Linked DNA regions of Homo sapiens. The protein of the gene in region 1 purifies or fractionates together with the protein of each later gene. This does not show direct contact. Each region holds a gene or a part of one and is shown on either strand. Other genes may lie near its edges. The genes, in order: FCRL2 and METAP2.

The links.
Region 2: the proteins of FCRL2 (region 1) and METAP2 purify together in Homo sapiens (affinity purification with mass spectrometry; 2 studies listed by BioGRID and IntAct, with this or other methods). This does not show direct contact.

The regions. Positions count from the first base shown.
Region 1 is NC_000001.11:157,745,833-157,753,132, forward strand, and holds part of FCRL2 (Fc receptor-like protein 2 isoform 1 precursor), read right to left. Parts: intron 3,846-7,300; coding exon 3,818-3,845; intron 3,129-3,817; coding exon 3,043-3,128; intron 2,787-3,042; coding exon 2,721-2,786; intron 1,068-2,720; coding exon 1,039-1,067; intron 969-1,038; coding exon of another isoform or gene 943-968; coding exon 904-942; coding exon of another isoform or gene 830-903; 3' UTR 1-829. UniProt on the Homo sapiens protein: May have an regulatory role in normal and neoplastic B cell development.
Region 2 is NC_000012.12:95,512,000-95,516,487, forward strand, and holds the end of METAP2 (methionine aminopeptidase 2), read left to right. Parts: intron 1-801; coding exon 802-917; intron 918-1,652; coding exon 1,653-1,905; 3' UTR 1,906-3,840; downstream 3,841-4,488. UniProt on the Homo sapiens protein: Cotranslationally removes the N-terminal methionine from nascent proteins. The N-terminal methionine is often cleaved when the second residue in the primary sequence is small and uncharged (Met-Ala-, Cys, Gly, Pro, Ser, Thr, or Val).

The DNA.
Region 1 (7,300 bases):
TATATGCATACTTTGGTGATATTGCAGGTTCAGTTCCAGACTACCAAAATAAAACAAATGCTGCAATAAAGCAAGTCACACAGATTTTTTGGTTTCCCAGTGCATATAAGTTATGTTTACACTCAAGTCGATGCACATAAAGAAGAAAATCTGGAGGAAACGGCTAAATTCCTGGAAACACACAATCTCCCAAGATTGAACCAGGAAGAGACAGAAACCCCTCCTAGACCAATATCAAGCGCTGAAGTTGAATTAGTAATAAAAAACTTACCAACCAACACAAAAGCCCTAGACCAGATGGATTCATAGCTGAATTCTACAAGATGCAGAAAGAATAACTGGTACCAATCCTGCTGAAACTATGCCAAAAAATCAAGGAGGAAGGGCTCCTGCCTAACTCATTCTATGAAGCCAGCATCAGCCTGATACAAACATTCTGGCAGAGACACAGTGGAAAAGAAAATTTCAGGCCAATATTCCCAATGAACATATTTGCAAAAATTCTCAACAAAATATTAGCAAACTGTATCCAGCAGCACATAAATAAGTTAATACACCACTATCAAGTCCTGTTCTCATCACTTCACAGTAGATGAAGGTGAGACCTTGTATCTCTTATTCATTCTTCCCTCAAATCTTTACACACTGATTGCTTAAGAGAAGGTAGCAGAAATAATTTATTTGCACAGTGTCTGGATGTAGCAGCAGTTCAATGAATATTGATAGGTAAAAGAAGATATTGGAGAAGAAACATCATCAGGACAAAAATGACAGGAGGTGCCTCCTGAGGCACGTTCTGGCTGTGGCAGGTGATAAGCCTCAAGCATTTTCATAAGGTTTTATAGCAAGTCTTAATGATGCCCCATCCTTGCTGTTGATCTTCCCTTCTGATTCCTCCAAGTGTTATGATTTCTTCACAGAAGAGTAGATGACTTGGGAGTCCTGGGAGAGACACACAGGAATAAAGACTGAGGTGATCAAGAAAATAAATAGGGAGAAGGAAGGAAAGATGAAGAAATTCCAAGGTGTCTAGCTCACCTTGTTCTCCAGAAGTGTCCTGATGTTTGCTGTTAAGGAAAAAGTAATAGTTCTGAGCTCTTGCATTCTTAATTAGGCCTCACTCCCAGACTTTATGCCCCAGGGCATAGAACTACTATGCTTAGTATGTGGAATCCCATTTTCTCCTGTTCTGTAAAATCCTTTCTTAAAGTTGTTAATACTGAAGTCCTTCTAAGACTCTATCCATCTTCCAAGCCCTCCACCAGCACTTACTAACAAAGCGCTTCCTTTCTCTAATGCAACTTCCCATAGGTCATTGTCTTTATAATTTTTTCCTCTTGACTTCTCTGTTGCAGCATTCTGTCAGGGCTGTTTCCTGTTCTTTCTCTATGTTCCTGAGATAACCAATCATGTGTGGTTCACCTCACTACATAGAAGGAAATTGGAATAGAAGCATAGATAACAGAAGACAGACTCTGAATCACATAGTATTTTGAGTCTGGTTGCAGGAGCTGCTTAGTGATGTCTGCTTCTTTTCCCCTTTTTCCAGGTAGGCATAGTGGGATGACATCCCTTTCCTTCCCTTGAAGATTTACAGCTAGAGGGCTTGGAAAGTGACTGCACTTTTTGATTCTGCTAGGCTGGTCAGATAGAGAAAGAGAATGATAGGGTAATCAACTCCCTATAGGAAGTTGAAGTGGCAAATCTAAGCAAGGCAGACAGAGGACCCACCTTCAGAGGCTCAGAGGAGAGTAGCTAGATGACCACTGACCAGGAAATCAGCCAAGCTGTCAACAGCCACTGGCTCCATCAGAGGCAACCAGGAGTACAGAACAAAGGACAGCTTTTAGGGTTGTTGATATAAGCATTGTAGTTTTAAGGGCACTGGAGCAGAAGCTTAAAGGACACTCCTCTGCACTGCTGCAGAACTCAGCAGTTCCTGCAAAGCTACGTGTCAAAGTGAAAATTCTCTAGGTCATGTTGATTTATTCAGTTATTCCTCCCATCCCATATGAAGACTACAGATCCTTCAAAAGAGACACTTTAATGACCCTGTTCACCTGAGAGAATTCCTCTTGGACTTTAGACATGCTCACTCTTGCCTGATTTCCTTCTTTTGCCTTGAATCTTAGATTCTCCCTGACTATCTAACCCGATTCAAATGAAGACTCATTAGACCATCACCCTATTTTTTTTTTTAAGTTTGCTCTCTTCACAAGAGCCTACCTCCAGGTGTCTCTTGCTCCCTCCTGGATCAACAGATTTCCTATCAAGGGCAAGTGATGTATTAAAGCCTCTATTGCTGGCTGGGTGCAGTGGCTCACACCTGTAATCCCAGCACTTTGGGAGGCTGAGGCGGGTGGATCACTTGAGGTCAAGAGTTTGAATCCAGCCATGGTGAAACCCTGTCTCTACTAAAAATACAAAAATTAGCTGGGCGTGGTGGCGCATGCCTCTCATCCCAGCTACTCAGGAGTCTGAGAGAGGAAAATCAAGCAATTTTCCTGTATCAGCTCACAGGCAGAGATTGCAGTGAGCTGACATTGCACCACTGCACTCCAGCCTGGGCAACAGAGCAAGGCTCCTCAAAAGTAGATAGATAGATAGACAAATAAATAAATAAATAAATAAATAAATAAATAAATAAAGCCTCTATTGCAAACAATGCATCACTTTCCTGTGAATATGCATCTGACAAGAACTACTTTGCAGTTTCTCACCTGAGCTTTCTGGCTGCTGCATGCTCCAGACCTGAGAATAAACCACATCCACATCTACAGAGCCCACTGCAGGGAGAAGACAAGAGTTCACAGATGTTGGTGGCCCAGGGTTCACACTTCATACACAGCTTCCCAGGCCCTGGCTTAATGATTATATCCTTCCTCTCAACCCCAACATGATTCTGAGAGAGTCTGTTATTTATTGGGAATGGCTGGGCCTCTGGTGTTGGGGTGTCTACACCACCCACCTAATGGTCTCCGCTCCTGTCTCCTCTTTCTTTTCTGACTCAGCCTCAGAGCCCTTCCCAGTGGAGACACTCACCATTGACATACACTGGCTGCAGCTCCTCCATGTCTGGGGTTGGGCTTGAATAGGTGAACTCTTGAGGATTTGGCCTGGAAGCCCCTCTGTGAGAAAGTGAATTAATTGTATGATAATCCCCAGGGCAGTGAGTGAGAACAGAGGGGAGACTGGCTGAGGAGAGAGCAGGTGGAAGCCCTGCAGCCATGGCTCTCTGCTTGGGTGATTTTATGGCCCTTTGTGTAGACTATCTACTTTGATATGGCCAAAACTTCTGTTCCTTATCTTTGGCTTTTTCAAAAGTTATAAATAAGACAATGATATTGCTCCAGAATCTTTTTTTTTCTTATAAACTGTCATAAAACTTTGCCTGCCTTTTTCTCATTACTTTATCTCTCTCACTCCTTCTTGTACTCTGGACATATACTACATACCTATAGCACAGTATGTCCCTGGAGGAAATACACATTTTGTGTGTATGTTCTTTCCTCTAAATATCTAACAAAAACTTACTTATACATTATAGGTATTCAATAATCTTGAATATATGAATTTATATATTAATTTAAATGTATGTAATCCTATACAAGATAACACCAAGGATCATGTGGACCACCTTAAGACAGTGCCCTGGTGGCAGAAATGTAATGCAGTAGAGACAAGAGTAAGTATTATAGAAAGATACCATGTTAATTACATAGCTTCAGTCTCAACGTACAAGCAGAGTACAGTAGGTATTTAAAACTGAATGAAGGAGACCTCTAGAATTAAAATTTTTACTAGGAAGAGTTCTCACCTGGGTTCATTAGTGGCAGAACTTTCTCCTGAAATGCAAATAAAACAAAATTCATTTCAGAGAAGGAAGCTTTATCTCTTAAAATTTTGACATGATTTAACTACGTATAATCAGCTGGTAAGACATAAGATATAGAAGAGTAATCCAATTGTATTTCATCTAAATGGCTACTTATTTATTCCAACACAACTAGTTGTTAGTAAAATAATTCATTCTTTTTTTCCCACTGATTTAAAATGCCACTTCAAATGGCAAACCCGTCATGCACTGGTAACTGTTTCTTTATTTTCTATTCTGTTCTATTGTCTCTTTGTCTATTCATGTACCTGTACAATGTTGTTTTAACTATCCTAATGTATAACATATTTTAACCATTGATGACTAATTTTATTTTATTGCTCTTCTGTATTAGATTTTATGCAGCCATTCTTAATTTTTAAATGTTTGATATTTGCAACACTTAGTCTTTAGGAATGATCTTGGGGCTAAGCTGGATGTTGACATTCGTAAGGCGAACTAGGCCATCTCTTGTACCATTTTGCTTTGTGGAGAGATGTAAAACAAGAAACGCAGTATATTAGCATAGATGTATCAGCTGTGTGTTTAAAGAGAATCCTCATAGCGATCCAGGAGATATTTTCTAGTCCTCCATTAATACCTCAGGAAACAATGCCACATAGATGTATATAGAGGCCACCCCAGCTCAAAAGCTTCATGCTTCGTAGAAATCAGTATCGCTTGTAACACCCATGAGTGTATGTGTGTAGCTTCCAGAGGTCACTACTACAAGAGACATGCTAAATTTCAAGAGTTACATTGCATTTGGGGATACCCCAGTTGTGCTTCCCATCAGGCTTATATAATCGTGGTCAAAGTCCTCCCAGTGTAGAGGCAGTTTGCCTATCATGGAAAATACTGCTAGTAGCTCAGCCAATATTTCAACTTTGTTAGGCTTTACAGAAAACAGTGCTAGAAAATTAACTTTGATTTAGTTTTCCAAGGAGAAGGTAAAACTTCTTTATAATTAGCTTGTTTAGTCTTCATGGAAAGGAATGACCTCAGAATTGTCTACCAAGCCAAACTGTCATTAAAGCATAAGTAAGGGGCAGTCAGTCATATTCAAACATGTATTAAATTAGTGTATATGTTTCCAGCAATTCCTTCTTGAAGAAATTATTTTAAAATGGACTTCAAAAATAGTTCTACTATCTAAGCACTTTTGAATAATAACAAAATGTGATGATACATTGGTTCACAAAGAAAACCTCCAAAATATTCCAAAAATCGACATGGTACAAATAATATTCCTTGATCATAATGGAACTGGTAATTCATAACAAAACTATGAAAAAATTGACATATGTCTATAATTTGTCAATTTAAAGGAAGCAAGTCTTAAGCAACTGAATACGTATACAAATATATAAGAAAAAAAGGAAGACTCAATATCCAATTTGTTCAAAAGAATCAAACTAACAAAAATAGAAGGCAATAACTAACAAAGATAAAAGCAGAATTCTAGAATTAGAAAGAAATATTGGTAGATCAAATAATAAATTCTAAGAGTTTTACCATACAGGAGATAGAGGCACTATCTTTCTAGATGGTTACATTTCAAAGGGCTGGCTCCCAAGTCTTAGAGATAGACATTTCTGGGTTGTAAAACTGGCAAGAGGCTAAGAGAAGATTTATATCTCAAGGAGGCAGAGAAAGAATTTACAATTGCAAGTTTTCTAAAGTAAATGCTCTAAGAAAAGGGAGATGAGGAGCCTATAGTCAATCGGAGGACAATATTAAGGCCAGCTTGGTGTGGGGAGGAGTGCCCCGTGTGGACACATGCCTGAAAAATCTTAAGGAGCCTTGAAAAGCAGATAAAGGAACATTCATTTCAGGGGAGATACGGTCATCTGCCTGAGGCAGGAGCTGCATATTTACAGGTGGGTGCAATGGTGTGCAAGTGTTTCTTGTGGATGGATCTGAGCCCTGTGGAAGAGAGGCAAAGCTTGAAGCCATTTCAAAATCTGGCCAAGAGGACTTCCTGAAGAGGTATAGGGTTCCAAAATAAGGGTGGAGGGGAAGAGGAAGAAGACTTTAGATTCTTGGAAACTGAAGAGAGATGTTAAGTGCTCAGCTGGAGAAGAATGAATCACCTGCATCACAAGATGCAGGTAGGTAATGTTAATAGTTGGGGGGCTCTGGAGAATCCAGAAACACACCCCCAAAATAGGAGCTGATTTTCTCAACCGAGCAAACCTGGAGAGTCAGCTTTTTCAGAGCCAGAGGAAATCAATGCCAGCCATGGGGGTTTCAAAAACAGAAGCAAGTTGAGGAAAGAGAGAAACATCTGGCCAGAACCCTTTCCATATTGCAGAAGGCTGGCCTGAAGAGGGTCTGAGCTGAGTGGGTGGGAGGTGAGTGCTTTAACTTTGAGATTCAGAAAGCTGCTTAATGAACAAGCGCTCTTTGGAGAAACTATGTTTTTGTTGTTGTTTGCCTAAAATTATATAGGAGTGATATGGTGTGGCTGTGTCCCCACCCAAATCTCATCTGGAATTCCCACATGTTGTGGGAGGTACCCAGTGGGAGGTAACTGAATCATGGGAGCAAGTCTTTCCCGTGCTGTTCTCATGATAGTGAATAAGACTCACAAGATCTGATGGTTTTAAAAAGAGGAGTTTCCCTGCACAAGCTTATCTCTTTGCCTGCCGCCATCCACATAAGATGTGACTTGCTCCTCCTGGTTTTCTGCCATGACTGTGAGGTTTCCCCAGCCATGTGGAACTATAAGTCCAATTAAACCTCTTTCGTTTGTAAATTGCCCTGTCTCAGGTATGTCTTTATTAGCAGCATGAAAACCGACTAATACAAGGAGTAAGTGGATAGACTATGGGCCTGCCTGCGATTTCAACCAGAGTCAGGGAAAATATAATCCTCTAAGACTGAGTGTGAATGGGCAGTAGGAAGAGGAAGATAAAAAATTAAATTTTATGGTTGCACTCTAAGAGTACCCTTGTTAGATGAATCAGTTATCATAGCAAAAATTAATCAATATCTCAGGAGTAAACTTAGCAAGAAATGGTGAAAGCCTATATAAGTAAAACTCTAAAATACTATGACTCAAAATTTACCAAAAGTAGACACACTCTTGGATAGAAACATTTCTCATTATAAAGCTGTCAATTCTTCCTTAATTAATCTCAAAATTTAAGAGAATCCTAACAAAACTACTTTGTTGAGAGACACTGATTATATTGTTTGTAGGGAAAATAAGTAAGCAATAATATCCAGAAAAGTTCTGTAAGAATAGCATAGTCATGATGGGAACAACCTTGATGGAATAAAAAATGTATTGTTATAAAGCGAAGGCATACAAGTCACACACACAAACACACGTATGCACACACTGACATACACACAAACAGAATAGGGCATCAAAGTTAGATCTGAATAGTATCAGATATTTAGTATAGCTGAACTGCTTTT
Region 2 (4,488 bases), on another chromosome or scaffold:
TATGTGTGTCACTAACATTTTACTTCCATGGAAGACATTTTTTTCTTCCAAGCAGAAGGTCATGGTAGTTAAATATATGGTTATACTGACCAGAATTAGCTGCTTATCATCCATATTCACCCTGCCAGGAATTGGGCCATTTGAATTTGCAAATTGTGTATAGTCAGCACTAAATCAGTTGTGGAAATTGGGGCTGTGAAAGGGTTGTTTATTCAACATTTAATGAATATTTATTGAGCATTCTCAGGTGCCAGTCTCTTTATAGTAGGCTCTAGGGGTAGAGCTGTGAACATAATTCATAGGGGGAAGCAGAAAGACCAAAAAGTGCTAAGGAGATAAAGCAGGGCAAGGCTAGATAAGGACCGCCAGGGGCTATTTCATGTTGCTGCTTAATCAGGTAGAGACTTCAAGAGATGGTAATTGTAGGCCAGGCTCGGTAGCTCAGGCCTGTTAATCCCAGCACTTTGAGACACCAAGGCAGGCAGATCACCTGAGTGAGGTCAGGAGTTTGAGACCATCCTGGCCAACATGGTGGAACCTTGTATCTACTAAAAATACAAAAATTAGCCAGGCATGGTGGCACGTGCCTGTAGTCCCACCTACTCGGGAGGCTGAGGCAGGAGAATCGCTTGAACCTGGAAAGTGGAGGTTGCAGTGAGCCAAGATCTCACCACTGCACTCCAGCCTGGCAGCAGAGAGAGACTCTGTCTCAAAAAGAGAGAGAGAGAAAGAGAGATGGTAATTGTGATTCGTTCTGAATTTTTCTTCTTTCTCTCCCCTTGACCCTTATTTATTTTTCAGGAAGGAGAAGTATATGCAATTGAAACCTTTGGTAGTACAGGAAAAGGTGTTGTTCATGATGATATGGAATGTTCACATTACATGAAAAATTTTGATGTTGGACATGTGCCAATAAGGTGAGAGACGAGACGATTGATTTTATGTGGCTAATTAGCATCTCTTCTGAGTTAACAGCATTTCTAAAAAATGTGGCATACATACAAAATAGTATATTCATGAATGTAGAGTTCTGTAGCCCAACAATAAGAAAAAAAAATAGCCTGTTAAACATTTTAACTGAGATAAAAATTACACACACACACACACACACACACACACACACACACACACACAAGTGCTCTCTTCAAGTCCGGTTTCTGATAATCATAAATGTCAGAGATTATTTTGCTAGCATTCCTAGGTTTTTGCTTTAATATTTTTCCATTGGTAAACTTCCATTTACAGCGTCTTTCAATTTACATTGAAATTTTTTAACATTTGAAGATGATTGAAATCTGCATTTACATCTTTTATATGCAGGTCTTTGAGCTTGCTGCACACAAAAGGAAATTCACATCATAATACCCTGTAGTAGGTCTCTAGTGGGGAATATAACACACACACACGCACACGCGCGCGCACGTAGACACGTAAACATGATAAGATGGCCTCCAGCTGGTGTCCTATTCAGCTGCCATCTATAATTAGGTATGGGCTATTATACATTCTGGCTTTTGATTGTTGAAAGAGCAACAATAAAAGTTTTTGGACTTCAACTACTAGGACACAGCTAAGGTCTGGGCTTTTCTTAATGAGGGAAATCAGTTCGTAACTCTTTTGCCAACAGTTAATTTTGGATTTTCTCCTCTTAGGCTTCCAAGAACAAAACACTTGTTAAATGTCATCAATGAAAACTTTGGAACCCTTGCCTTCTGCCGCAGATGGCTGGATCGCTTGGGAGAAAGTAAATACTTGATGGCTCTGAAGAATCTGTGTGACTTGGGCATTGTAGATCCATATCCACCATTATGTGACATTAAAGGATCATATACAGCGCAATTTGAACATACCATCCTGTTGCGTCCAACATGTAAAGAAGTTGTCAGCAGAGGAGATGACTATTAAACTTAGTCCAAAGCCACCTCAACACCTTTATTTTCTGAGCTTTGTTGGAAAACATGATACCAGAATTAATTTGCCACATGTTGTCTGTTTTAACAGTGGACCCATGTAATACTTTTATCCATGTTTAAAAAAGAAGGAATTTGGACAAAGGCAAACCGTCTAATGTAATTAACCAACGAAAAAGCTTTCCGGACTTTTAAATGCTAACTGTTTTTCCCCTTCCTGTCTAGGAAAATGCTATAAAGCTCAAATTAGTTAGGAATGACTTATACGTTTTGTTTTGAATACCTAAGAGATACTTTTTGGATATTTATATTGCCATATTCTTACTTGAATGCTTTGAATGACTACATCCAGTTCTGCACCTATACCCTCTGGTGTTGCTTTTTAACCTTCCTGGAATCCATTTTCTAAAAAATAAAGACATTTTCAGATCTGAGAGCTACATCTCAATGTCTGTGGTTATAATTCTGGACAGGATAAATAGCTAAACTTAATGTAGGCAAATGCAGAGACATTTATCTGAAATGTAGACCTCTACACTGAGACTTTTCTGGCATAGTGGCTAAAACAAGATCTACACATGCATAAAAAGGGACAATCACCTTTTCTTCATAAATATACAGCTTTAGGAATATTTCACCATTCTTTGTAGGACATAGTAGTCCTTGTCTTTTTTTCTCCTGACATTGGAAAGATGTGCTAATTGAAACTTGACTTAGTAGGAACATTGTGCCAACTCAAAACCTTGATTTAGTAAAAATCTCAATGTTTAGATCCTTTGTCCAGTGGTGGTGTTTATCAGGGAATGTATTCAGCTTGCTCAGAAAACCAAAAGGGTATTAAAGCCACAAAAGCAAAGAAGAAAAAAAAAAACTTCCCATGTTTGGATCTTGTTCTAGTTAGAAAAATTAAGTTGAAATTCTTGGACTTTTTCATTCATGAGGCAAATGCTGTAATACCTTCCCCTTTGACAGGTTTGGATTCTTAACATTACTAGTGGTATTTCAGGAAGTGACGTTACAGTTACTTTCCTTATAGCGGCTAAGTGTATTAAGTTGAATGTAACGATGGTAATATTAATTTGTTTGAACTGAGGCCCACTACTGATTCTTTGACAAATTGAATTCTTATATTTAAATAATTTTATGGGAATGTTCCATCATAATTTCTAAATCATTTATATATCAAGGTAGCCTTAATTTGTATATGTTTCAGTACAATGAGATTTTATTGCCTCTGGGATGCTGTTTAGTTTGTATTTTGTTGAACGTTTTTATCCTAGGAAGAGAAACCTATGACTTGTGTACCTAGATCATCTGTTACATTAAAAAGCTGCTCTTTCAGCATTAGAGCTATAAATGAATGTTACCTTGTCGGGAAACAATCTAGGTTTTAGCTGTATGAGCTATGTTTATTATGGTGCTAATGTTCAGTAGCCACATTTGACTAATGTCTCCATTCTCTGTGATGCTGTGGCTAGCAGCAGAGCTCGCCAGTTCATGCCTGGACATACTGTCAGGGCTGGGCCCTCCAGCTAGCTCCTTTGGGGTTGAGTCCGTATCTTTTTGATGTGGAAGTATAAAGCAAGTATCTTGATTTCTAAACCCAGCAATTTTAGAATTGACCTTTATGAGTGAAGACTTTTGGAGCTTTTAAAGACCTTGGCAGTCATGATCTCAAACCAATTAGGAGCTCCAAGCTCCCTTCCCAGGTAACTGTTGGGAGCAATGGCATCACTGTATGCCCTTGTAATGGCTGGAAGGGACATGATCTTGTAAGTAGGAAAGCTGTAACTAAAAATTGTATTGTTTGCTTATTAGCCATGTATCTCTTAAAATTTTGTTATGTTTACAACGATGTACCTTATTGGCAACAAGTTATTAGTTTGATGTTTAACAATAGTGCCTTTAGTAAATTATTTTACAACTAAAACATGTTGTTTTTTGTTAGATCAACTTAGCAGAATGTAGACGTCCATGTTGAGATTTAAGATAAATAGTAAGAAATCTAAGTTTCTGTTTATTGTTTAGGTTTTAATTTTATTGTTGGTATTTTGAGACATTTTTCACACTAAAATTTAGTGGAAAGTACTACAGATTTCCCAGACCCCCCCCCAATAATATCCCCCTTTTCCAAGCCTCCCCCCATAGGTGTTTGTTAGTTTTAAGGGATTAAAAAGTAAAGGGCTAAGTCACTTTGTTTTTTTTTTTTTTTTTTTTTTTTTTTTTTTTAGCGGGAGTCTCGCTCTGTCACCCAGGCTGGAGTGCAGTGGCGCGATCTCAGCTCACTGCAGCCGGGTTCAAGCTATTCTCCTGCCTCAGCCTCCTGAGTAGCTGGACTATAGATGCATGCTACCACGCCTGGCTAATTTTTTTTTTTTTTGTATTTTTAGTAGAGATGGGGTTTCACTGTGTTAGCCAGGATGGTCTTGATCTCCTGACCTTGTGATCTGCCCGCCTCGGCCTTCCAAAGTGCTGGGATTACAGGCATGAGCCATGGCGTCCGGCCTCTTGTATGTTTTTATATTGAAATAAGTACAAGCAACGATACCATTACAAATAGCTCAGGAGTTTTTACAGT